Linked DNA regions of Homo sapiens. The protein of the gene in region 2 interacts with the protein of the main gene of each other region in a biochemical or structural test. Each region holds a gene or a part of one and is shown on either strand. Other genes may lie near its edges. The genes, in order: POLI, POLH, RAD18 and RCHY1.

What was found.
Region 1: the proteins of POLH (region 2) and POLI interact in far-western blotting, tested with the Homo sapiens proteins (2 studies listed by BioGRID).
Region 3: the proteins of POLH (region 2) and RAD18 form a complex in vitro, tested with the Homo sapiens proteins (one study listed by BioGRID).
Region 4: the proteins of POLH (region 2) and RCHY1 form a complex in vitro, tested with the Homo sapiens proteins (one study listed by BioGRID).

Annotation. Positions count from the first base shown.
Region 1 is NC_000018.10:54,293,512-54,298,761, reverse strand, and holds the end of POLI (DNA polymerase iota isoform a (long)), read right to left. Parts: intron 5,114-5,250; coding exon 4,295-5,113; 3' UTR 528-4,294; downstream 1-527. UniProt on the Homo sapiens protein: Error-prone DNA polymerase specifically involved in DNA repair. Plays an important role in translesion synthesis, where the normal high-fidelity DNA polymerases cannot proceed and DNA synthesis stalls. Favors Hoogsteen base-pairing in the active site.
Region 2 is NC_000006.12:43,607,155-43,614,186, forward strand, and holds part of POLH (DNA polymerase eta), read left to right. Parts: intron 1-3,399; coding exon 3,400-3,569; intron 3,570-6,505; coding exon 6,506-7,032. UniProt on the Homo sapiens protein: DNA polymerase specifically involved in the DNA repair by translesion synthesis (TLS). Due to low processivity on both damaged and normal DNA, cooperates with the heterotetrameric (REV3L, REV7, POLD2 and POLD3) POLZ complex for complete bypass of DNA lesions.
Region 3 is NC_000003.12:8,876,545-8,883,474, forward strand, and holds the end of RAD18 (E3 ubiquitin-protein ligase RAD18), read right to left. Parts: intron 4,916-6,930; coding exon 4,813-4,915; 3' UTR 531-4,812; downstream 1-530. UniProt on the Homo sapiens protein: E3 ubiquitin-protein ligase involved in postreplication repair of UV-damaged DNA. Postreplication repair functions in gap-filling of a daughter strand on replication of damaged DNA.
Region 4 is NC_000004.12:75,511,401-75,518,817, forward strand, and holds the start of RCHY1 (RING finger and CHY zinc finger domain-containing protein 1), read right to left. Parts: upstream 3,004-7,417; 5' UTR 2,887-3,003; coding exon 2,797-2,886; exon of another isoform or gene 2,755-2,796; intron 2,599-2,754; exon of another isoform or gene 2,508-2,598; intron 1-2,507. Other genes in the region: THAP6 (THAP domain-containing protein 6), read left to right, coding at 4,053-4,132, 5,372-5,579. UniProt on the Homo sapiens protein: E3 ubiquitin-protein ligase that mediates ubiquitination of target proteins, including p53/TP53, TP73, HDAC1 and CDKN1B. Mediates ubiquitination and degradation of p53/TP53; preferentially acts on tetrameric p53/TP53.

The DNA.
Region 1 (5,250 bases), on a different chromosome or scaffold from region 2:
CAAAAATTAGCTGGGTGTGGTGGTAGGTGCCTGTAATCCCAGCTACTCGAGGCTGAGGCAGGAGAATCACTTGAACCCAGGAGATGGAGGTTGCAGTGAGTCAAGATCACACCTTTGCACTCCAACCTGGGCGACAGAGCGAGACCCCATCTCAAAAAAAAAAAAAAAAAAAAGATTCTGTAGTATAATTGGTCTGGTCTTCGTTCAGGGTTCCTGGACACCAAGCTCCTAAAACCCATGGAATTTCCTAAACAACAGAAGTGCCTTCATTATTCATGGTAAGCCCTGACACTGTATGCTAATGATGTGACCCACAGTGGGCCCTAGACAGCTAATGCTAAAAAGATGATTTAGGATGGAGGTAGCTCACTTCAAAAAAACAACCATGATTAGGGTGTTGAGACTTTGAGCCAGCCTGATGTCCAGACAGAGGAGGGAAACTGGAGATTAAGTTCAAGCACACAGTAAAGGTTTTAATAAATCATGCCTACGTAATGAAACCCCAAAGAAAACTCTGGACTTCTTGATTACTTGATATGTTTTATTTCTTGACTTGGACAGTTACATAGTTGTTACAATTACTCATTAACATGTTCATTTATGTTTATGTACCTTTCTATATACAGATTTTAAAATAGAAGTTTTTTTAATATTGAAAACAATCCAGATTTGATGGAAGACACAAATCTGCAGATTCATAATGAACCTAAATCCATGATAAATCTATAGCTAGACATATAATAAAAACTGCGTATCTCCAAAGTAAAAGATATTATCTTAGAACAGCTCAAGAGATGTCAGTTCTAAATCTACAGCTCTAAGGACATAATTTCAGAAGGTATAAAGAATTCTACCTAGAAGGAACATCTGACACACAAGAAAAAAGGTAAGCCCCCACCATGTCCCATCAAAAAAATAAACATTGACTATATAAAATACTAATAATATCCAATTTGGAGATTTAATAAAGAACTTGTGGAATTTAATTAGAATTAATGTTATTTCAATACCTTTGTGTTGTTTGGAAAGAGGGTAGCATTTTTAGATGTTTAAGGATAATCAAAAGGACTTGTAACATTCACATTCCAAATCAGTAAAGGGAAAATATATGATTAAATAGAAAACCCAACTGATCCCAAAAGATAGGAGGAGAGATAAAGGTGGGAAAGAAGCACAACATAGAAAAAGAAATATATTAAAAAATAAGATGGCAAAAAATAAATCCAAATAAATTTGTACTTTGGCACTACAGTGGAATAGATACTTTTTAGAGTTCTCCTAGTACAAAACACTAGATCTTGGAGAAAAGAGACCTCTTAATTCATTGCTGGTTTGTACCATATAAGGGAAATCTCCAGGCCTACACTCAAGACAGAAACCCCCTCTACACTATACACTCAAGAGAGAAACAGAAAAAATAAAAATAAAAATACCCTCTACATTCAAGACAGAAACAGGAAAAAAAAAAAACAACAACAAACTCGAGCTGAAACAAAAGCAAGAAAGCAGCAGAAAGCATCAAGCAAGAAGCAAGCTTGAAAGATGGGGTTTATCCCTGGAGGCAGATAGCTAACAGCATCTGCCTGTTAGTTTGGAATTGACCTGCAGAGACAAAACCTTCGGCTAGTAGTAAGGGTCAGGGAGCTTACACTTAAGACAAGGCATTCAATCAGGATCCACAAAGGTGAATAGAGTATGCCAAGGAGTTTGTACCACCTCACCCAGAGAAGCAACGAACTCAAATCATACTGAAGGAAAACATACACAATTTAGGCCCTCTGTCTTCTCGCAGATTAACACATACTCAAGGAAATAAGTCACAATGATATGCAATAATAACCTTAAATGTAGACTTATAAAGACTTAAAATATTGAAATTATCAAAAATATCATATATTTGACTTTTAAAAATTAGAAACAGACTTACAAGGGACTGTAATGAGTAAACGGGAAGTTAAAAAGAATCAAATGAAAAATATATTTATTGAAATTAAAACCATCATTGTTTTAAATAGCAGGTGAGATGCTACTGAAAAATGAACTAGTAAACAGAAAGATAGAGCTGATGAAATTACCCAAAATGCAGTAAAGAGAAACAAGAGGATGAAAAATATGAGAAATTAAGAGACATGAAGGATACAGTAAGAAAGTCTATCATTTGTATACAGTCCTAGAATAGAGAAGAAATATTTGAAGAGCTAGTGGTTGAGAATTTTACAGAACATGAATTAAAAGATACAGGAAGAAGCCAGTATATACTAAGAATAAAAATAAATTCGCACTTCCAAATAATACAGTAAACCTGCAAAGCACCAAAGAAAAAAGAGATAATCTTAAAAACAGAGAAAAAAGATCCCATAAAAAAGTTGATTCTGAGGCCCAAAGATGTTGAGACTAACTTAAAACCACAAAATAAGTAGCGTAACTGTGACATAGCCCGTACATTCTCAATCTATGAAATGTATTTTTAACTATTTTGCTTTCTCTTTTTAAGCTGGCCAAAACCATTTACTTTGTTTTCTTAGCCATTTTTTCTTAAGCCCCTTCTAGCTGTCCAAGGTCCTGAAATCATTACAAGGACTATAAAATGTTTTAATGATTTACAAAAAGTTATATACCCTTTTCATAAGTTTAATTACCTTACTGGAATACTCATGTAAAAAATACTATGTTCCTTGATTCAGAGTACTAAATATTTGCATGGTGAACAATTTCTGATGTTCTTGCTTCAAGTTACTGTTCCTGATAACCTCAAACTACCTATTTACAATCCTTCGTGTTAGCATATTTTCAAATTCCAAGGAATCCAAAACTAAGTTAAAATTTCAGAGCTGGGGCCAGGAGCAATGGCTCACACCTGTAATCCCAGCACTTTGGGAGGCCAAGGTGGAGGATCACCTGAGACCAGGAGTTCGAGACCAGCCTGGCCAATATGGTGAAATGTCATCTCTACTAAAAATACAAAAATTTGCTGGGTGTGGTAGGGCATGCGTGTAATCCCAGCTACTCAGGAGGCTGAGGCAGGAGAATTGCTTGAACCTGGGAGGCGGAGGTTGTAGTGAGCTGGGATTGCGCCACTGTACTCCACCCTGGGCGACAGAGTGAGACTCTGTCTCCAAAACAAAAAAAGAAAGAAAAGAAAATTTCAGACCTAGAAGAAAGTATTTTTAAGCTACTCTTTGGTTCATATTTGTGTACTTTATTTTTAAAGTCTCTTCTTTAGATTATATGTGCAAAAATTATAAACTTGAGACCAGGATACTCCCATATTGGTGCTGAGGGATACTTTAGTATATTCTATAAACATCCTCTATGTCTTGCAAATTATATAATACATTCTCAATCTTATATCCAATTTTTAGTTTAGCAGGCAAAAGAGGAAGGCAATAACAATGGGAGAAAGAGGACATCCACCAATTTAGTAATGGTCTATATTTGTGGTTGTTATGACAACCTAATATCATCTCCAAATGTAGGGAAGATACAAAAACATCTCAGTGCTTTTAGGCCCTTCAAACTAGCTAGAAAGAAATGGACTTCTTCCATTATCCAGTATGCTTATAGGCCCATCACCTTGCCTTTCTGGTGTCCATCTTTCCCTTAATTTACTTGCACGGAGAGTTCCTTCTACCACTGTTCTCTATAACATATACCCTCCTCTCACTTTAACTCCCCACCCTGGCCCTAGCCAAACCATTCATTCATTCAATGTTTATTGAACGGCCTTTGTGTGCTGTGTATTGTGGTAGATTCTTGGTGTATGAAGAAGCATTAATTGAATATAAATTGCTTTGGTATTTTAAAAGTCAACATACTAAATGTAATGTAGTACTTTAGTCAAAACTATCTATATTTTTAATAGGTTAGTTGGCAGTAGGATTTGCTATTCAGCCTAAGAGGCTGAATTTGAGATATTCCACATTTCACAGGAAAAAAAAAAAAAAAATGTGTCCTTTACCATATCATTGCAACGATTTGGCTATTTTTTATATATAAACATATACATCTCCCCACCAATTCATGAAAAATATTCTATGTTGACCATGATATTCTTTTTATTGAAAAGTAATATAAAATGGCTTTAGACATAAAAGATAGTATTTTACATTATTTCTTCTGTTATATTTTTACGCTTTGTGCCAGAATTTACTTCTTGCAACTATTCTTGCTTTATCTGGAACAGTTTACTCCGTTATTGAATATCTATTAGTGTTTAATATAGAAGAGCTTAATAAACCGCTAATCCGAAAATAATGGTATTCCCTTGCTTTTCAGACCTTTTTGCTGAATATGCTTATTTATGTCCAATGTGGAAATCTGATCCTGCTCTCTTCCACTCTGCCAGCAGTTCCTTTTGTACTGCTTCTGGTAGTTCATAGAAAACTTGAGGATCAATGTCAGAAGGGAAAGTAATTTTCTCATCAACAGAATCTGGCTCTCTATTTTCTGTAAGTCCTTCATGAGAGTCTGTTGCTACTGTTTGCTTATGGCTATCTGTAGTGTGGTTTCTGGAGAAAAGTTGCTCACTCTGCAAGTTTGGAAATGAATGAAAAGCAGACACAGCAGGGTTTGAATTTGTAAAGTGGAATCCTTGAGGTTCTTTAGGTCCTTGACTTATTCGTTCATCTTTTAATCTATTATCTAAATAATATGAATAATCCTTTTGGCTAGACATGTAAGAAGAACTACTGCTATTAAAGCCTGATGTTCCCGGTTCACAAGGAGATACAGAGGATACCTGTTTGCTACTGGATAAATGATCTCTAGGATTTATGGGAATATCTTGCATTTGTTTTTTAGAAAAGAAAGATAATACTCCTCTAGAGGCATGTAATGGACAACTCACACTTCCTTTCCCTTGAAATTTTTCCCTAGATTTTCCAGAAAGGATTTCTTCTTGAATATCTACTGGAAGCTGCTTGAAGACTTCTTGGTCAACACCTTCAGGAAGTGAACAGAGTGGGAATTCATTAATGTCTTTTTCTTTAGAAAAATTTGTGGTATCTAGTGGAGACTCCCTAGTTCTTGTACTTTCAATTCTTCCACTTGGTAGGAAATCCCGGTTTGTTTCTTTGTCTTTGGGAAAATCTTCCATATGAGTGTCTTTCATTTTCTAGAACACAAGAATAACAGACTAATTTACATATCTGATATCTTTTAAATATCGCTGCTGCTGCTGTGTGCCTGTAGCTATTATCTGACATGTTTCTAACCTACTCAACAAATACAACTCTTTGTGGCCAGTTCCAA
Region 2 (7,032 bases):
TGCAGTCTCGGCTCACTGCAACATCCGCCTCTCCAGTTCAAGTGATTCTGCTGCCTTAGCCTCCCGAGTAGCTGGGATTATAGGCACGCGCCACCACGCCCAGCTAATTTTTGTATTTTTAGTAGAGATAGGGTTTCACCATGTTGGCCAGGGTGGTCTCAATCTCATGACCTTGTGATCTTCCTGCCTCAGCATCCAAAAGTGCTGGGATTACAGGCGTGAGCCACTGCGCCCGGCCAGGACTGACACCTTTTTATGGCTGAATAATATTCTATTGTATTAATATATACCATATTTTGCTTATCTACTTATTAGTGAATGGACATTTGAGTATATTTCCACTTTTGGCTATTATGAATAATGTTGATATGAACATTCATCTACAAGTTTTTGTGTAGACACCTGTTTTCTTTCCAGCATATACCTTGGAGTATAATTTCTGGGTCATATGTTAACTCTATGTTTAGCATTTTGAGGAATCGCCAGACTGTTTTCCACAGTGGCTACACCATTTCACATCCTTACCATCAATGTAAGAGGGTTCCAATTTTTCCACATCCTTGTTACTGACTTTTTAAATTTTAGCCATTCTAGTGGGTGTGAAATGGTATCTCATTATGGTTTGGCTTACATTCTCTGATAATCTTTTCATGTGCTTGTTGGACATTTGTATATCTTTGGGGAAATGTTTGTTGAAATCCTGTTCCTGGGCCGGGCGTGGTGGCTCAAATTTTTGGAGGCCGAGGTGGGCAGATCACCTGAGGTCAGGAGTTCGAGGGTAGCCTGGCCAACATGGCGAAACCCTGTCTCTACTAAAAATACAAAAATTAGCTGGGCGTGGTGGCGGGCACCTGTAATCCCAGCTACGCAGGAGGCTGAGGCAAGAGAATCGCTTGAACCTGGAGGTGGAGGTTGCAGTGAGCCGAGATTGCGCCATTGCACTCCAGCATGAGCAACAAGAGCAAAGCTCCACCTCAAAAATAAAAAAGAAAAAACAAAAATCCTCTCCCCTTTTTTAAATTGGGTTGTCTCTTTATTATTGAGTTTTAACATGTCCCTTGTCAGATACGTGATTTGCAAATATTTTCTCCCATTCTGTGGGTTTTCTTCTCACTTTCCTAATGGTATTGTTTGATGCATCCTCTTCTTTTGAAATGTCTTGGAGTTCTACAAGTCAACTGTACATGTCAAGAATAGTCCAAAACTGCTCGTTGCTCCTTTTTAGCTGGAATGGGTGGTAAATGTTTGTTCCTTTGGTAGGCATCATAAAGAGGGATTTGATCCAGTTGCGTTATCGCCCTTTTCCGCTTTTGCCCACTAGGTGGCACTTGTTTCTCATCTCTCTCTAAGTCCCTGGGGCCTTTCTTTCCACTTTTTTTTCCTAAGAGACAGGGTCTTGGCTGTCATCCGTGCTGGAGCACAGTAATACAACCTTAGCTCACTGCAGCCTTGTAGCCTCAACCTCCTGGGCTCAAGTAATCCTCCTGCCTTAGCCTCCCACAGTGCTGGGAGTACAGGCATGAGCCACTGTGCCTAGCCTTTTCTTCCCTCTTTGTATCCAGTGGGGATCCCTGAAAATCTATCTTTTAAGCTTCAAAGGACTTTATGCCAAAAATAATTCAGGACATAGCAGATCCTATCACTTCACTGTTTAAAACATTCCAGTGGTTTCCCTTCACACTTAAGGCATATTAAGGAATTTTTTAAAAGTAATTCTATAAAGCCAAATATAATCTAATTTCTTGCTACTTCTCTGACCCCATCTCTTATCTTCCCCTCACTTATTCTAGTCTCCACTTCACTGGCCTCCTTCCCTTTATCTAACACACTAAGTAAGCTCTTACTTTAGCACTTCCCGTTTCTTTGCCCTGGAGACTCTTTGTTCATATATTCTTAATATTTGCTTCCTTGATTTATTCAAATCTCTGTGCATGTATTACATTCTCCAGGAGGTCCTCCCTAGTTACCCTATCACAGCAGCAGCCTCCATCACTCTCTGCCTTATTCTGCTTTTCTTCATAGCACTCATCTCTGTGGTCATTTCTGTTACATGTCTATTTTTTATTATCTATAGTTCCTACTACAACATAGGATCCATGAGGACCTGGACTTTATTTTGTTCTCTCCTGCATCTCTAGGCACTGTCTAGGCATGCAGTTATAGTTGAATAATTTTGGTCAACAAGGACTCCTTTATAATTGCTAATTTGTATTCCCTCAAGATATATAAATCCATACAAATGTATTTTTTATCCAAAAAGTAGTTCCTGCTCTTAGCTTGTTTGCCTTAGGGATACTTCTTCTCACTAGCATCTTTTGATAGGGGTCCCTTATGTAGAATTTTCACCTTCTTATATTTCTGCCTCTTGACCATTATGTCTCAGTTTGCTGAGATTACAGCATTCAGATGCTTCAGACTTCACTGAAAAGTGAGTCATGATCTTGCTCTCTCAAGGCAGGCTCACTATATGGTATCTTCTCTAGATAAGCTGTAAAAAGGTGTTGGTAGAAACTTCTGGAATTGGTGGCGAATGTTTGTTTACCATAAGAGCCCCAGGGCAGAAAAAAAGATATGACTTGAAGCCTAGTTCCACTTTGCTTTCAGACAATTACTTACCTGAAACCTTCCTTCAGTCACAAAATAGTATCTAGTATTGTAGATATTTGTTATAATTGTCCTGCTTAGACACCATGAAAAACATTTAGGGGAGTCCCATTTTCATTTGTGCTGTCCTGTTCCCATCATCTGTCAAAACATCCTAGGATACTCCGATGTTCCATAATCCAAATTATGTCTTCTTCAGTTACTTTTTACACCCAGAAATAGCATTAACACTTTTTTGTGGAACCATGTAATCAGATTTCTATTCAGAAAATGCATTCTGTTGCATATATATAGATTCTTTTTTTTTTTTTTTTTTTTTTTGAGACAGAGTCTTGCTCTGTCATCCAGGCTGGAGTGCAGTGGCACCATCTTGGCTCACTGCAACCTCTGCCTCCCAGGTTCAAGCAATTCTCCTGTCTCAGCCTCCCGAGTAGCTGGGATTACAGGTGCCTGCCACCACGACTGGCTAGTTTTTTTGTATTTTTCAGTAGAGATGGGATTTCGCCATGTTTGCCAGGCTAGTCTCGAACTCCTGACTTCAGGTGATCCACCTGTCTCAGCCTCCCAAGGTGCTGGGATTACAGGCGTGAGCCACCATGCCTGGCCTCTTTCTCTTTTTTATATTTTATCTTTACTCTTTGCAGAACTCAGTTTACCTTTATTCTTGACTTTTAAACTACTGTTTCCAAACCATTGTCACCCTGGTTCTTTTAATTTCCTCTCCTGCAGTTCAGTACCTAGAATTCAGATGCTCCTCATAACTTTATTTCTGGTCTCCATCCTTTCCACCCACAGAATGACAGGGTAGCCACCCAGCTGGTTGTGAGCATTCGTGTACAAGGAGACAAACGCCTCAGCAGCCTGCGCCGCTGCTGTGCCCTTACCCGCTATGATGCTCACAAGATGAGCCATGATGCATTTACTGTCATCAAGAACTGTAATACTTCTGGAATCCAGACAGAATGGTGAGTTCTTTTCTAGCTCATCTTCTCAGAATAGATGATGATTCTTAGCTCTGTCTTAGCTCTACAAGACATAATTTTTATCATAAAGTTCCTCATTGTGTCTAATCACTCAAATTTTCACATGAGCTGAATTTCAGAAGATGAAATATGCTTTTATGTACAGATTAGTCCTTCAATGAGGTAAAGGGTAAATGTCATTTTAAAGTTATTATTAAAGTATCGGCCGGGCGCAGTGGCTCACGCCTGTAATCCCAGCACTTTGGGAGGCCAAGGTGGGTGAATCACCTGAGGTCTGTCTCAGTTCTACAAGTAGTAGGAATCTCTGTCTTAGCTCTACAAGTAGTAGGAATCTGAGCTCTTCCATCTGGGATAGACTCTGACTCAGACTACCAGTACCTGTTACTCTGGGAGAAAATACAGTACCAACCTCAGAAACAAGACAGCTCAGCACAGATCCTTTGCCGACAGCTGATACATTCCAGTTCCCAGGAGGTTAGACCCTTACTCTGTATTGGCTTGGTCAGGGAAATGACCAGTTGCACTTGGAGAACAGAGCTCAAATTTCAAGGATACATTTGGGAACTTCAAACTACTTGATTGTTCTATCTTAAAAGCATATTTCTTGATTATAAAGGTGACCTGTGTTCACTGATATTCTCTATCTGACATCCCAACTCAGTTACAAGCTCCACTGGTATTATACCAAATGTCATATTCATTAGTAAACTTCACTTCTGTTGGTCATGAAATATAAGCCTCTTTTTGGAGCATCTTCATTTTCTGTCCAGATATTAATGATTTTCAGGATTGGAATCCTTTAATTGCATATTTAATAAAGCCCTTACTTTTTTTAAAGTATTCCAAATTCACAATAGAAATATAATTATGAGAGAGAGGTAAGTCAGTTGCTCACTTACAGATGTATATTGAATATTATACAAAATAAAATCAAAGTTTAGTTAATCGCTTATTACTTATCTAAATATATTGGCAGTATAATTATGTGTACAGACCTATAATATGGTGGAGTCTCCTAGTCTTTGTTCATAGGGCCGGGCGCGGTGGCTCACGGCTGTAATCCCAGCACTTTCGGAGGCCGAGGCAGGCAGATCACCTGAGGTCAGGAGTTCAAGAGCACCCCAGCCAACATGGTGAAACCCTGTCTCTACTAAAAATACAAAAATTAGCCAGGCATGGTGGTGGATGCCTATAATCCCAGCTACTTGGGAGGCTGAGGCAGGAGAATTGCTTGAACCTGGGAGGTGGAGGTTGCGGTGAGCCGAGATTGCGCCATTGCACTCCAGCCTGGGCAACAAGAGCGAAATTCCGTCTCCAACAACAACAACAACAAATAAATAAATAAATAAATAAAGTCTTTGTTCTGAGAATAATTTACTTAATACTTCCTGATATATTTATTTTCAAATATTGAAGTTTTACAAAACCAAATAACAACCGTGGTACTAATGTACACATGAAACCTTATTTGAAAAGTTATAAATTGACAAACTATAACAAATACTACTCACCAACGGTGTGAAACTCCGTGATGCACAGGGAAGCATCAAAATTATCTGATTATAAGACTGTCCCAAAGCATGAAACCTGAGGATATTGGGATACTTTTTTTTTTTTTTTTTGAGACGGAATCTCGCTCTTGTTGTCTAGGCTGGAGTGCAGTGACGCAATCTCGGCTCACTGCAACCTCTGCCTCCCGGGTTCAAGCGATTCTCCTGCCTCAGCCTCCTGAGTAGCTGGGATTACAGGTGCCCGCCACCACGCCCGGCTAAATTTTGTACTTTTAGTAGAGACAGGGTTTCTCCATGTTGGCCAGGCTGGTCTCAAATTCCTGACCTCAGGTGTTTCACCCACCTCGGCCTCCCAAAGTGCTGGGATTACAGGCGTGAGCCACTGCACCCGGCCAATAGTGTAATAATAACTTTAAAATGACATTTACCCTTTACCTCATTGAAGGACTAATCTGTACATAAAAGCATATTTCATCTTCTGAAATTCAGCTTATGTGAAAATTTGAGTGATTAGACACAATGAGGAACTTTATGACAAAAATTTCTGATTTTTTTTTTTTTTTTTTTGAGAGGGAGTCTGGCTCTGTCACCCAGGCTGGAGTGCAGTGGCGCAATCTCCGCTCACTGCAACCTCTGCCTCCCGGGTTCAAGCAATTCTTCTGCCTCAGCCTCCCAAGTAGCTGGGTTACAGGCGTGTGTCACCACACCCAGCTAATTTTTGTATTTTAGTAGAGATGGGGTTTCACCATGTTGGTCAGGCTGGTCTCATACTCCTGACCTCATGACCCACCCGCCTTAGCCTCCCAAAGTGCTGGGATTACAGGTGTGAGCCACCGCTCCCGGCTATCACAAGAATTTCTTAAAATGTTTCTGAAATTGGGACTAGTAACGAAAAGCAGTTGTGGAATTTCATTCTCTAGAAATTCCAGAGTGGTAAGTCAGTCAGGGTTAGGTAGTGCCCTGTTTAAAAACAGGATAATGGCTAAGAGGATTTTTTCAAGTCTTTCTAGTCTAAATATTCTAAAGCTTTTTGTTGTCCTGAATAAAATTTCTTGCCCCAACCCTGAATTACAGCAGCTTTCCAGTGGTACCTTATAAAAAACAATAATCTCTAGCTGTCGGGAGGTGAGTGGTTGCTAAATTAGTGGTTCTCAAGACATAACATCAGCATCACCTAGGAAATTAAATTCTCTGTCATCCCAGGTCTGTTAATCTCTGATACACATTAACGTTTGAGAACCACTGCAGTAAAGAATAATTTCTGTGGCAGAACCAGAATGCTAGTCATCTATGGATTAAATCTGTCCTATGGTGAAATAAAACAGATACAATTCATGGAATTAGCAATAGGTCACTATTTTAATCTTCTAAATTGCTAATCATCTTATTTCTTTACTTTCTGTATAGGTCTCCTCCTCTCACAATGCTTTTCCTCTGTGCTACAAAATTTTCTGCCTCTGCCCCTTCATCTTCTACAGACATCACCAGCTTCTTGAGCAGTGACCCAAGTTCTCTGCCAAAGGTGCCAGTTACCAGCTCAGAAGCTAAGACCCAGGGAAGTGGCCCAGCGGTGACAGCCACTAAGAAAGCAACCACGTCTCTGGAATCATTCTTCCAAAAAGCTGCAGAAAGGCAGAAAGTTAAAGAAGCTTCGCTTTCATCTCTTACTGCTCCCACTCAGGCTCCCATGAGCAATTCACCATCCAAGCCCTCATTACCTTTTCAAACCAGTCAAAGTACAGGAACTGAGCCCTTCTTTAAGCAGAAAAGTCTGCTTCTAAAGCAGAAACAGCTTAATAATTCTTCAGTTTCTTCCCCCCAACAAAACCCATGGTCCAACTGTAAAGCATTACCAAACTCTTTACCAACAGAGTATCCAGGGTGTGTCCCTGTTTGTGAAGGGGTGTCGAAGCTAGAAGAATCCTCTAAAGCAA
Region 3 (6,930 bases), on a different chromosome or scaffold from region 2:
GCTGTGACATTGACACTGATGAACTCCAATGTGATTCTTAAAACCCATTAAGACCCAGAGAAAAAAATTCCTTTAGAATACTTTGGTGTCCCGTTTTGAAAACCTGGCCATATATTTTATTAAAAGCTAAGGTCCCAATAATTCCATTTCCGAGAATGTAATCTAAGGAAGTAATCATATATATGGAAAAAACTATATGCACCATGATGCCTTCTAAATTATTTGTAATTGGAAAAAGCTGGAAGTAACGTAAGTGTCCAAGCGTAGAATGTCTGTGCAAAATGGCACACGATCCAGATGGATTGTTATACAATCATTAAATAGTATTGTTAATGCACTGTGGAATCTTTCTGTGACAAATGAAAGCACTGTGTGTGTGTATGTGTATGTGTGTGTGTGTGAGTGTGTGTGTGTGTGTTTGTGTGTTTATGGAGGTGATCCTGGATAGGTGATATGAAATTCTGACTTGTCCAGCTTCTCTTGATACTATTGGGAAGTTGGCAGACACACAGGCACTTACTAGCATAAGCTGACTTCCATAACTTTATTCTAATATTTTGTATTTTGGAATCAAAGGAGTCAGAAGATGCATGCATCAGTTTCTGGGTGTCCATTTGTGCTGCCAGAAGAAAATACCACAGTCTGGGTAACTTATAGACAATAGAAATTTATTTCTCACAGGTATGGAGGCTGGTAAGTCCAAGATCAAGGCACTGGCAGATTCCGTGTCTGGTGAGGACTGCTCTCTGCTTCCAAGATGGTGTGTTGTTGCTGAGTCCTCCAGAGGGAACGAAGACTGTGTCCTCATGTGGCGGAAGGGATGGAAGGAAACAAAACCACTCCCTCAAGCCCTTTTAGAAGGACCGTGACCCCATCTATAAGAGCTGTGCCCTCACGACTTAATCACATCCTAAAGTTCCCACCTCTTGTTAAGTTTCAACACATGAATTTTGGGGAAGACAGGGATAAGGAAAGAACATGGTGATTAATGCTGTCCCCCTGGACTGATTTTCAAGCTTTCTATGGCAAGAGTTTATAGGCAAAAACAAAATCCGTCCATTGCATGTTTGATAGTGCCATGAACCTCTCTTTTGTTGCACTCATCACAGTTGTACATTAATCTATATAATTACTTAATGCTCATCTTCCCTTCTGATCTACAAGCTCCATCAGGGCAGGAACTGTCTTTGTTTTGCACATTACTTGACATATAGTCCTAATAGTTGAAGGAAGGAAGGACAGGAAGAGTGGAAAGGAAAGAAAGGTAAGGGGAAAGAGAAAAAAAAGGGGGTGGGGAAGAGAAAAGAGAAAGAGTGAAAGGGGAAGAGAGAGGAAGCAAATTTTTGCACAGGACGCTGTGGTCCGGGTGATAGTACACTAGCAAACCAGGAAAGCACACTCCCATTTCCACTTGGAACACAGCAAGGCCAAGAGACTGAAATGGACAGGAAGGCAGGGCTGCCCTAGCACTTGGCAGGTTTGCATCTTGGGGCTATATCGGGGATGGCGTCCTAGGCAAGGTAGGACTTTCCAGCAGGGCCAGCCGCAGTGCACGTGACAGAGCAGCGGTGAGGAGGGCAGATGCTGGTAGAAGTCTGTCGGGGGGAGCAGCAACATATGCAAGCATGGACTTGTATCTGTATTCTGAATATCTGAACCTGGGGATACCCAGAAATACACAGAAGGAATGGAGAAATGCCCCCTTTAAGGTCTCAATGCAGGTAGGGAGTATAAAGTCAGTATCATGGGTGTTAATGTAAATACTTGTTTACAGCCTCAGATAGTTGTTCTTAAGGATGTCTAAAAACAGACTAAAAACCAAAAAAAAATTACTGAAATGGTAAAAAATGTAATGGTTGTGGTTTTCCCTCTTATGTTCATACTTTCATAATATGTACATAACAGACAGAAGTGTTTCTCATTTGAATAATTGCTACTTTCTTTTATCGGATGCTAAGAAGTTTGAAATCCATTGTTTTTGGGTTTTTTTCCAGAAACAGTTCTAGCCTTCTCTATGTTGTCTATCCCTGTTGACACATCAGTCTTTACCATGTAATTTTGTTTTTAAAGGCATACCTCCCTCTATTATATACATGGTCTTATGTGTATGAATTCTTTTTTCAACTAGACCAGTAATCCTCAACATGAGGTCGAAAAAGAAAGACGAGAGTAGAGGATGAAAGGACGGCCTGGCATACTAGGCCATCTAAAGTGCATCCAGCAGCTCACCTGCACCCCCACAAACCATAAGCATCACTGCCATTCTGAGCTGATGTTGATGGGAGATGTTATAACTTTGAGGGGAGTGAGGAGGTAGAAAGAGTTAATAACTCTGAATTACTGTAAGTTTGGTGAGAAACTGTATTTTCACTAAAAGGTGAATTTTAGAACCAGAAGTTTATCAGTTTCAATTTTGGATCTATTACTTACTCTAAGTTCCTTAATCTTTGTCAGATGGATATGAACATACATTTCTTTCAATGTATGAATATTAAACATATGCTAAGTGCTAACAGATAGTGCTCAATAAATGCTCTTTAGACCTTACTTTTCAGGTAGACTTGGGAGTTCCTTTACATTACAGGTTTCTCAGTCTTGGCACAACTGACATGTTAGACTGGATAATTCTTTACTGTGGAGTGTTGTAGTCTAAAGCGTGCCCCTTAACCCCTACCACTAAATATGTTGGAAGTCTTAACTGCCGGTATCTCAGAATGTGACAGTATTTAGAGATAGGGCCCTCTATCTAAAAAAGAGGTAACTGAAGTAAAATGAGGCCATACGCATGGGCCCTGATCCAATGACTGCTGTCCCTACAAGAAATCGGGACACCAGTCCTGCACAGTCATGTGCACACAGAGAAAAGACCATGCAAGGACACCATGAGTGGAAGCCAAGGAGAGAGGCCGAAGAAGAAACCCTACTGATCTTGGACTTCCAGCCTCCAGAATTCTGAGAATACACATTTCTGTTGTGTAAGCTTCCCCGTCTGCAGTATCTTGTGACGGCAGCCCTGGCAAACTAATCCATGAGGGTTGGGTGTTTAGCCTCATCCCTGGCCTCCACCCATTGATACTGGTAGTACCCCTCACCACCCTCCACCTCCAAAAGTGTCTCCACACATTGCCAGCTGTCTCCTGGGGGGCAAAATCTTTCTGCCCACCCCACTGGGAACCATTGTTCTAGATGATCTTTGGCCACCTTTGTATTCCCAGTGTCAGCACAGTGACAGACATAGATAACCAAATATTTGCTGAATGAACTCATGTGCCTACTTTCCCAATCTTGGGTCTCACCGCTCCCTCACAAACTCCTTTTGCTGCAATTAAAGTAATAATTACTTCCAGTTTAATTTATAGACTATATAATTTGTCATGAAACAAACAGTTTTCATTTTGACATAATTTCTGACAACTCAGTGACATAAATATATCCATGTGAGCTCCTATTTTGTTTGACATGCTCACTTACCTCACATCAGTTCTGCCGATAGATTTGGTAAGTGGTGCTTTTAGTTTCCTTAATGCACCCCTCAGGATTTCATGCAAATGAAATTATTATGACAAATTTTTCTATAGCCATTTCTAACACAGGGAACTCATAAAGAAATCAAATGTCTGCACTTCACTGTGAAAACACTAAACTCTCAGCCATAATGAGACTCCACACATTATCAGAAACCCCAAGGCATACCAAAAAGACAAGGTCAACGGAGACAGTCTTTGGAAGGGGAGGTCATAAATGTTGAATCTGGCAAATCATAAATTTCTTGTCTTAACATTGCCGCATTTACTATCATCTCATTTGAAAGCTGATGTGTTTGGGTTGGGTGATGGCAGAGGGGTGGGAGTTGGGGGATGCTGGCTCTGAAATGCCAGAGAGGCATTAAGAACTCTGGAAGCATCTGGCTACTGGTAGACATTTTACACAGATAGCAATTTCTGACCAATCCATTTCAATGATTTCTAACCCATACTCAACTATCCAGAGGATACTGTTTTAAGAACATTATTGTAAACTGATACTCTCTATTCATTTACAAAATTCATTCATTGCATACTTTTTGTTTAATAGCTTGGATTCAGTGTTACAGATTTGATTGACCCAAGTGAAAAAATACTGACACTAATCATTTTTAAGTGCTATTTCAGAAGAATATGCGCAATGTTTCTAAGTTATTGTGACTTTGTGACTGTCGTAGCTTTAAATTATAATACTAATATCCTACTCTGAGAAATGTGTAAGACACAGGTCTAACAAACAACTACATTAACCTCGGGCAACAACCATCATGGAGCTGCTGTAACACAGGCATGGTGGTGGCGTGCATCGGTACTTACACACACCAAGGATGTGAACTGACATCCCGCCTTTCCAAAAACAAACATTTAACTCAACTGTTTCTTGCAATAAAGAAGTTGAAAGAATCCTTTTGTGAGGCTGGATTCTCCATGGAAGAGAAGGAGAATGGCCTAAGGACATTCTGAAATTTAATTATCAAACCAAACCAAACCAAACCAAATCCCTGTGCCAAAGTGCCAAAGAGTCTACCTCCTCTGCAAAGCTGGTACCTGTGTGAAATGTCAGTATTTTTAGAGAGAGATGTTTTAGAGGCAGGAGGCAACTGACCAAGTAAGGATATTTTGTAACATTTTTCCCCTCTGGAAAAGCAGAAAAGAATGAATATCAGCTAACCGTAATATTTAGAATTTAGCATCTTTCCTTGGGCATTTATAAATAGAAAATCTATCTGTGGCAACCAAAAGTACGGTATTCTAATCAATGCATTTGAAAAGTCAGCAAAAGCCCACATTAATTCCTATTACGCTTGTTTCTTGGTTCAATCTCAGCACTTTCAGCGGCTCTTGTGCGGCGATTCTGTCTTGGACTTATTTCTGTGTCTTGAAGATCGTTTCTGAAGACAGAAAAAGGAAATGACATCTTGGAAAGTAATGATTATTGTACAGCAGTTTCTAGTTTACAAGTGTTTTCACACATATTATTTCATTAAAACCTCGAAATAATCCTCTATTCTGTTGATGAATTCATAATTGTTATTATTAGTATTTCCACTTTATGAATTAGTGAGTTAGCAAAGATCACAGATAGTAAATGAGCTCTGAACCCCTTTTTCTGAATTAAAATTTAGGAGTTTTATGCTTCTGTTTAGCATGTAGAGGGCTGGGAAAAAACGGCAAACAAAAAGCTGCTCCCATCCTAACAAGAAAAAGCCAGACAGTCTAACAAAATCTTAACTCTGTTTGATCCTTCAGAGACCTGAGGTTTTAAAGGAACTAAGAAAGTAAAATTCCAAAGAAAAATATGCCCCTCCAAAGATGGGCCACACTTCTCTCACTTTTGGCAGAGTGTTGGAGAACGAGGTGGCTGCCATACAAACAGGTAAGAAGAATCAGCTAAGATTTTCCTAATTTCTTAAATACAGGCTAGTATTGCAGGCCCCTGACACAAGGAGAGTCTGCACACACTTGCCAGCTCTTTTCCACGAGCCTCCGTCAGGTGCTCACAAGAAAGACTGGGAGCAGGACAGGTGAATGGAGAGGGGCCACTTCAGTGGCTACGGGGGACAGGAAGAAGTCAAGTCCTGCCTGCTCTCCTGAATGCTTCTCTCCCATGAAGCATAAGCTTTTCAGTTGCTGAGGGAAACACAGGAAACTCCCCCTGGGGCTCTAGCAAAGACCTATGGCCTCTGGGGAAGGAACAGAGGTGAAATCAGTCTGCCTCAAGGGGAGGCATATGACCTCATTTGCAGGAACGCAGGCAAAGATTCACTGCTGCAGGGGGAATGGTAGAAACTAAAACCTCTACCTTACAGGAGGGGCAGTAAATCATCTCCAGCTGATGACCTTACACTGACACCACGCAGAGGTTTGGTCAAGTAGCCAGATACCATGGGAGGAGGTGGAAGTGCTGAGAAAGGCCCACCCCTGAGACTCAGGCACACAGGGCCTACCTAAGACTCAGGCTAGACTGAGATAACAGTGAACCCCGGCTGTTTCCCACCATCAGCCTAGCAACAAGCAATAAGCAGGAGCAGGAAATGGCTGAGGGAGAGACACAGACATGGTGAAGATATGCCCCTATTTGGTGCAGGAAAGCAAGCATGGCTGAAAGGAAAATGGGAGCAAAATCAATGAGAAAAACCCTCTGGCAATCCAGCCCCAACACTAAGCAGAAGTCAAAGCAGCCACCTGCTAGAGTAACTTGAAGTGGATGCACTGAAGGTCACATTAGTCACTAGGAAACTCCAATCCAGGTCAACTCTGAATTACCCAGCTCAACTCCCCACACTAATGACCCAGTAGAAGGATGTGCATTTCTAGGCACAAACACTATCGACCTCAGTCCCTATGGTCCTTCACTGCATGGCCCGCATTCAAAAAGTATGATACACAATGAAGCAAGGGAAAAACCCATTTCGAGATGGAAATTCCTTCAATAGGCTTTAAGTGCAATACACAAAGTTGATAAAAAGACTTAGTGAACTTGAAGGTATGTCAATAAAAACCAGATTAAGATACAAAGAGAAAAAGGAGTATGTGAGGGGGTGCACATAGAATAGAGCAGCCAAGAGCTGTGGGACAATAAAAATGGCATAACATGTGTATAACTGTAATACCTGGAAGAAAGGAGAGAAAGAACTATGGATAATAAATATGTAAATATATATGGCTGTGGATTTTCTAAAAACGTTGAAACACTTCAAATCAAGATCAAAGTTGGTCAAAGAACCCCAGTCATGAGAAATACCAAAAATAAACAACCAACAAACAAGATCTCTCCAGGATTTGTTGTTGTTGCTGTTTGCTATTATTGTTTAGTGACTTTTCTAAACCAATCCTATAAATATGTATTCTTTGTTGTATATGGCAACTAAAAGTGTCTGCTTGATTAGCTTTGTAGTCCACTAAT
Region 4 (7,417 bases), on a different chromosome or scaffold from region 2:
GTGAGTCTCACTTTTCTCCTTTTTGAGAAAATGTCTGCCAACTACCCAAATGTGAATGACTACAATTTTTTCAAGTAAAAAATGCTGTTCCATGAAAAAAAGCAACTAGTTCACTTTACAATCCAATTTGCACAAGAGCTTTTCCTCAAGACAACCCTCTAATTTCAGTTTGCAGAAGTGTTTGATCAAAACTTCCCATGTCATTGAACAGCATATTAAAAGATATATTCAAGGGTTGAGATTTGGTTAAAATTAACGATTTTACTGCTTTATCAACATTTTTAAGTGAAGCTGGCTTTTTAAAAAAACTATAGGTGTAGTATAGTTCAGTGCCACTGTCTTGATTCAAGCTAAGATACTAGCAATACTAAACAGTGCTTTTCCACCATCAATGCGTGTGTCAACAGACTGAAAAAAAAAAAAAACAAATATCTTAGTGTTCATAGAAAGTAGTTTTGGCCTTGCAGAGCCCCTGAAAGGACTTCAGGAATCCCCAGGGTTCCATTCACCACACTTTGAAAACCAATGCTACAGAACAACGGCACCCTCTTTGCATCTCAATTCCAAGCATGAAATTCTCTAACCATTACCTCCTCCCTAACTTACTCCAAGTCTCCCCTTGCAACACCCTAGTTCCCTTCTCAGTTCCTCTACACTCATAGATAACAATCCCAACCCTAGTTAAATCCTATTTGACTTCTATCAGAAGCAGGTGAATATGGCTAGAGAAAAAGCATCACCGTCCTTGCTGGTTCATATGAGGTGGACACTTACTACCACGTTTCCCTGGTCAATTCTCTCATTCTTCCAGAGTCTAAGACCTAAGATTTAGATGATCATTTCACTTCTTCTCCTCTGGCTTTAAAACTCTAACAACTCTTCCTCCTTAACACTCTGCTGATGACCTTATTTCACTATAAAAACAGTAAACATACTTCCTGCTGACAGGCCTGAAAAGAACATCCTCCTATTATCTCTATTAACTTACTTGCAAATATACCTCATTCTCTGCCTTCCCTTAGGAAGAACTGACAGTCTATGTTTCTAAGGCCAACTCCTTCACTTGTGCACTGGATTTCATCCCCTTTGGCTACTCAGGGACAATGCCCTTACAGTTTTCTCACTCTCTCCTGCATTATAAAACGTTCTCACTCTATTGTATCATTTCCTAGAATATACAAACATGCTGTAATACTTCCTCTCTTAAAGAGGAAAAAATATGGTGCCAGATCTCCCAGCAACCACATCTTTTTTTTGCTCCCCTTTACAGCTAAACCCCAAGAATACCCTATAAGTGCTATTTTCAATTCCACTCCTCCCATTCTTTCCTAAATTCACTCTAATCCTGATCTCTCCACTAAAACTCCTCTTGTCAAGATCACCAGTGACCTCTTCCTTGCCAAATCCAAAGGGCAATTCTCAGTTATCTTACTCAAACAGCTGCATTTGACCCAGCTGACCACATCCTCCTTGAAATACTTCACTTGGCCTCTGGTATTTAAGGGGGGGGGGGGGGCGGGGGAAGGCAAAAACTGTTTGACACCTAGGGCGAAGTATCTTAGTGCTATGATACACAGATCTAATTGTGTGGTTTATGGGGGGCACCAAGATGTTAAATTCCGTTTTAGACCTCAAGTTTGAAAGAATAATAATACATCTCAGTAGAAATTGAATCATAAGGATAGCATTCAATTTCCTTACACAACACTTGGTGGATGACCAACATTTTTAAGGAGCTTCATCCAGTTCAGTGGAGCAATGTTCGTCAAGCCATGACCTATAGAAAAGAGTTTAGGATGCACGTACAGGCCTGAGACTTGAACTTGCTTCTAATAATGAGGCAGTGACCAGCAAGGCTGACTTGTGAAGTGAAAGAACAAAAAATAATAATACTCAGATTGACGATGATAGTAACAGTCATGGTGGTATATATTTACTACTCATTTACTTCAGGGAATGCGCCCTGTTAAACACTATACACGCCCTTTAGTATATAATCCTCATACACTTTTATGAAACAGGCGCGATCATCTCCATTTTACATACGGGGTAGAGAGGAGCTAGCTAAAATCAGTTATTAAAGAGGAGAGCTAAGATTTGGGGATAGGGCGGTTGAGGTTCCAAAGCTCAAGTTTTCTAAGCAAAATTTTTGTACTGTTTCTTGCAAGGAAAATCAGGAAACTTCAATTGAATACGTGCCAATTTAAAAAAAAATACAGATTAAGAAGTTTTCTCAGAGTAACAATACATGCTTATTAGGCACTTTCCTATGCATAATTTCCTATTTAATGGCAATTACATGATTGTCTTCTTTTTTGGGACACACGTTTTCTCCTACGTCTGAACATGTGCACTGCCTTTAACATGAAGCTGGCAGGCTATAAAACTTTACCACAGGAGCTGAAATCGTATTCGGGTTCTCCACTTGCTTATTTCCATTATCTCCACTTCCATTATTTCATCACACACCTGAACGGAAAACCCCAGTACAGGCCCGGGGCTGCCTCAGTCTACTTCGGCAGCAAAAGACGAATAAGCCCACTGGCAGAGACCACTGTGCAAGCCTAATCACTTCCCAAGAAGGGTTTTGCTTTAAAGGTACGAAGCAGGTAGGAAAGGTGGGGCTTATCGCCTTGCCAAAAACGTTCTCCTCAAGAAGAACCCAGTTCCAGGTGGAAAAGGTATCCTGAAAATCAGGTTAACCTCAAACTTAAATCCAAGCCTAACCACCTGCCCAGCCCGCCCCAGCCCAACCTGACGGAAGCTTGTCAGGGAAGAGTCCATAGAAGGCGTCACCTTTAGGAGACATCCTCTGTCATAGTGCTCGCAGCCCCGCTGACCTCGCTCTTGACCGCTGGCGCCATCTTCCCGGGCCGTCGCCGCCATCTCCTCCACCTCCCCTCACATTCCACCGATCCTTCCCCCAGGATAAAAACCACGCCCAGAGAAGCTGCGCCTCTCTAGCACACCCCTCCCAGCCCCAGCGGCCACTAGCGACAATATGGCTCCTAAGCACGTGACCCGGGGCAGACGGATTTCCGGTTCCCGGGGCTACGAGGCGGAAGCGAAGGCAGACGCAGTCTCCGTCGTTGACGTTAGTCGCAGTCTTCGCTGCTAACGGTAATAACTCTTAGGTTGCCTGTTTTCCCCCAATCGCTACCCGCCCAAATCTCAGGGCGTAGTTCGGCGCGAGGTTGGCGGCAGCGGCGCGGAGACGCTGGTTGGCCCCAGAGGAAAGGACGCTCACTGGGCGCATCGTTACCTGTGACGGGTCCTCCCTCTCTCCCTCCGGTGGCGGGGAGCCTGGAGAAAGGGGCGGAGCTCGGCCCGGGCCCTGGGCTCAGCGGGTCCCGCGCGCTGCTCTTGGACGCCAGGGTGCTCGCTGGCACCTCGAAGTGCTTCTTGCTTCCTCCCTTTCCCGTTTACTTGCTGTTCTTTCAAAATATGTACTGACATTCACTATTGCCAGTCACCAGCTAAACCGTGAGGACAAAAAGTAAGGAAAAATAGACACACTCCACCATGACCTCATGGAACTAACAAGACTGGTGGAGGAGGAAGACATTAATAAGAGCAATCACTGCAATAAATGTAAGATTACAACCTGGAGAAGTGCTAGGAAGAAGTGTGTGTCCTGTGAGAGCTAATATTAGAGCAGCTCTGACAATCTGAGTGTCAGTGAGGGAAGGCTTCCCTGGGGAAGCGATGCAAGCCGAGGGCTGAAAGATGGGTAGGAGTTAGTGTGCAAAAGGCTTTGTGGCACAAAGAACATGGTACCTGTTAGAAGGTGGAAGGAAAATGTACAAGCCAACAAAATTGAAATCATACTCGGGGTACACAGCTAAATATGTTTCTCCTTATTAAAGAGTCAAGGCCCTGGAAAATGATGTAAGCAAAGCTGCAGGTGTTAGAAGAAGATATTTGTCTTTAGCTTTCTATCCTGATTTTGTGTTTCCTAAAACACCGGGAAAGGGAAAATATTCCCCTTCAGCTTTCCGGTTACTAACTCTTAACATTCTAATTTTCTTTCAGTTTTGTTATGAGTTGCTAAAATGGTGAAATGCTGCTCCGCCATTGGATGTGCTTCTCGCTGCTTGCCAAATTCGAAGTTAAAAGGACTGACATTTCACGTGTAAGATTTTGCTGTAGTTAAGCCAAATACTTTGGCCATGTTATAAAAAGCAAAAGACAGTTCTACTTAAGTCTTCAATTTTGAACTTTAGTTCCCGAGTCCTTTTTAAATAACCTTTTTGTTAAATTTGAAGTGACAATGTGATACCTTTACATGTTTATAATTTAGTTTAAAAGTTTTAAGATATCAGAGACTTTAAGATATCAGAGACTGGTTTACAAAAAATACCATAAGGCTAACTTTTGCTAATATTATTACTTTGTATTTTATCACACCGCCAAAGAAATTCAATGTTGTTTACATGTAGTTTACAATCTGAATGAAGGAGCTTTGCTCGAATATATTGCCCTCTCTATTTAGAAGTAGATCAAGCATAGGTTATAGAGAAAAAATACAAATTACAAGTTAAGACCAAGGGATCTTTAGCTGTGTTGCAAATAAATCAAAATGATTTTAGTTTCATATTTTAGCCATTCTCTTGACAGCCATGAAGGAGTAAGTGAAGGAGTAATAAGATTTAATAGTTGTTCACTTGTTAAAGGTTTATTTTGCTGCTTTTGTGCCAGGCACTGTCCTATGTGTTAGAGAAAGATCTCCTAGCTATTTTGTTAGATATAATAAATCAAAACTGAGCATATATATCCTACCTTATTTTAGAAAAATTTGAACCAGCTTGAAAATTGAGTAAGATATGGCTATTAGGCCTTCATATCTCTCAAAATAGCTCTGATCTCCAGAACTCCACACTGCAGCTATTCTCTGCATTCATTCACTAAGCATCTGTAGACCTGCTATGTATTAAATGCTGTACTAAGCAATTTTCTGGTGCTGACAGAAGAATGGAATTACAAGGGGCCCTTTTTATCGAGGATAAATTCTGGATATCATTTCAGATAGGAAAAGGCCCAAGTGATAATTCTTTTATCATCTATAGATGAATAAATACCTTCAATTGTGGATCTTACTATAAGATGCTAAATATCCATTGAAACTTTTCTTCCTTATAATGTGAGAAAAAATGAAATGAGGGCCATATATCTGCAGCATGATTGGCAGAAAATCTGAATATTAAAACGGAAAGTAACAAAAGCATGAATTATGGTTTCCTAAATATTATAATTCTCAAGACTAATAAACTAGTTAACGAATCAATTTAGTCACAGTTGTATAAGGCAGCTTTAATTCAATTATATAGCAATAGTATTTGATTTTAAAATATTTTTTGTATTTTTTTTCTAGATTCCCCACAGATGAAAACATCAAAAGGAAATGGGTATTAGCAATGAAAAGACTTGATGTGAATGCAGCCGGCATTTGGGAGCCTAAAAAAGGAGATGTGTTGTGTTCGAGGCACTTTAAGAAGACAGATTTTGACAGAAGTGCTCCAAATATTAAACTGAAACCTGGAGTCATACCTTCTATCTTTGATTCTCCATATCACCTACAGGTTTGTTTATGAGATACTGTTTACCATCATTGCTCACTTTTTTTTTTTTTTTTTTTTGAGATAGAGTCTCGCTCTGTCACCAAGGCTGGAGTGCAGTGGCGCGATCTCAGCTCACTGCAATCTCTGCCTCCAGGGTTTAAGCAATTCTCTGCCTCAGCCTCCCGAGAAGCTGGGATTACAGGCACCTGCCACCACACCTGGCTAATTTTTGTATTTTTAGGAGAGATGGCGTTTCACCATCTTGGCCAGGCTGGTCTTGAACTCCTGACCTCGTGATCCACCCTCCTCGGCGTCCCAAAGTGCTGGGATTACAGGCATGAGCCACCGTGCCTGGCCATTGCTCACTTTTTATGATACTATTGAAGAACCTTCACCACTCTTGCTAACATTTTTATTGTTTGCTTATTCATTTGAAGTCTGTTCTTGAAGTTTTAAATTTGTAGACTGCATCTTCAACTTTTGTAATGTGTAGTAGGAGTATTTTACCAGTAACCACTCATAAATATTTGTATATTACTAAGGTTTGATGAAGTGGGCTGACTTTAGGAATTAGCATAACTGAAGATTTTTGTCTAAAAATGGAAGTTAACGTAAGAAGGTTGAACTGATGTTCCAAGTTGGCAGTCCTTAACACTGGGGCAGAAGTCAGGAGTAGAACCACTAACAGGACTAAAGTACTTGTAAGAGCCACATACATGCAAGCATAAAGTCTAGGTAGGATCAAAAGGAAGAAAACCAAAAAAGAGATCTAAGAACAGGAGAAGAAAAGGTCAGGAAAAGAAAGAACAGTCAAATAAGTAAACGCTAATTGAATTCCATGTTTTTTCTGGGTAATATTCCCATGGGTTGGCTGCCTCACCCTCAGTATCTCTCTTGACTTTGTATACCTGAAAGTGAATTTCTAGAACCTATAGACATTGATTGATTGATTCCAATGTGGAAAATTCAGGGAGAGCCTCCATTGAAAGGGATCTCCTTCCTGGCAACTAAAAACAAGAGAAGTAGCCAAAAGCGTACCCGCTCCCATGCAGTCCTGGTCACTTTCTGCAGTTGGTCATATTGTAGAACCTGAGTGATCAGGTAGAGAATGCCTCACTTTCTTCGGTGCTAATAAATATACAGTATCTTGGGAAAGTTGGTCTAGGGCTTTTGTTTTTTTTCCTACCACCAAGGTGTCATCTAGCCGTAATGTTAAGGGGACCTTAAGAAATATGGGCATAATAAATCAAATAAACCATAAGTTACCAACTTTCAAAAACTATTGATTTTCTTATAACAAATAAATTTTTCATTTTAGAAAATAAGATTATAGGAGCAAAAATAAAATAATCACATAATCCATAGATAATACTGTGAACACTTTGATCTGTATCTTTGTAATTATCCGTAAATATGCATCTATACTTATATAGATAATCTTCTGGAAATAGAATTATACTGTATACCTTTTCCTTTATTTGCTTTATTGGGTTTTTTAAAATAGTGTGTACTATGTGCCAGGCACTATTCCAAGTACTTTACATGTCTATTAACTCAGTCCTTGAAAGAACCATGTCAGGTAAATACTATTATTATTTTCATTTTATCACTTGAGAAAACTGAGGCCCAGAGAACTAGAATGCCCTTCCCAGGGTCACACCTCTATTAAATGGCAGAGGCTAGATTTGATCCCAGGCATTTTGACTTCAGAGTCTACTATTAACTACTACTCTCCATGACATTAAATATTTTCCTACACCGTAGCTTTCAAACTTTAGTCTACGTAAGGATTATCCAGTGAGTTTGTTTAAAATACAGAATCCTACATCTTCCAGAGAATTAGATTCAGTAAATTGGAG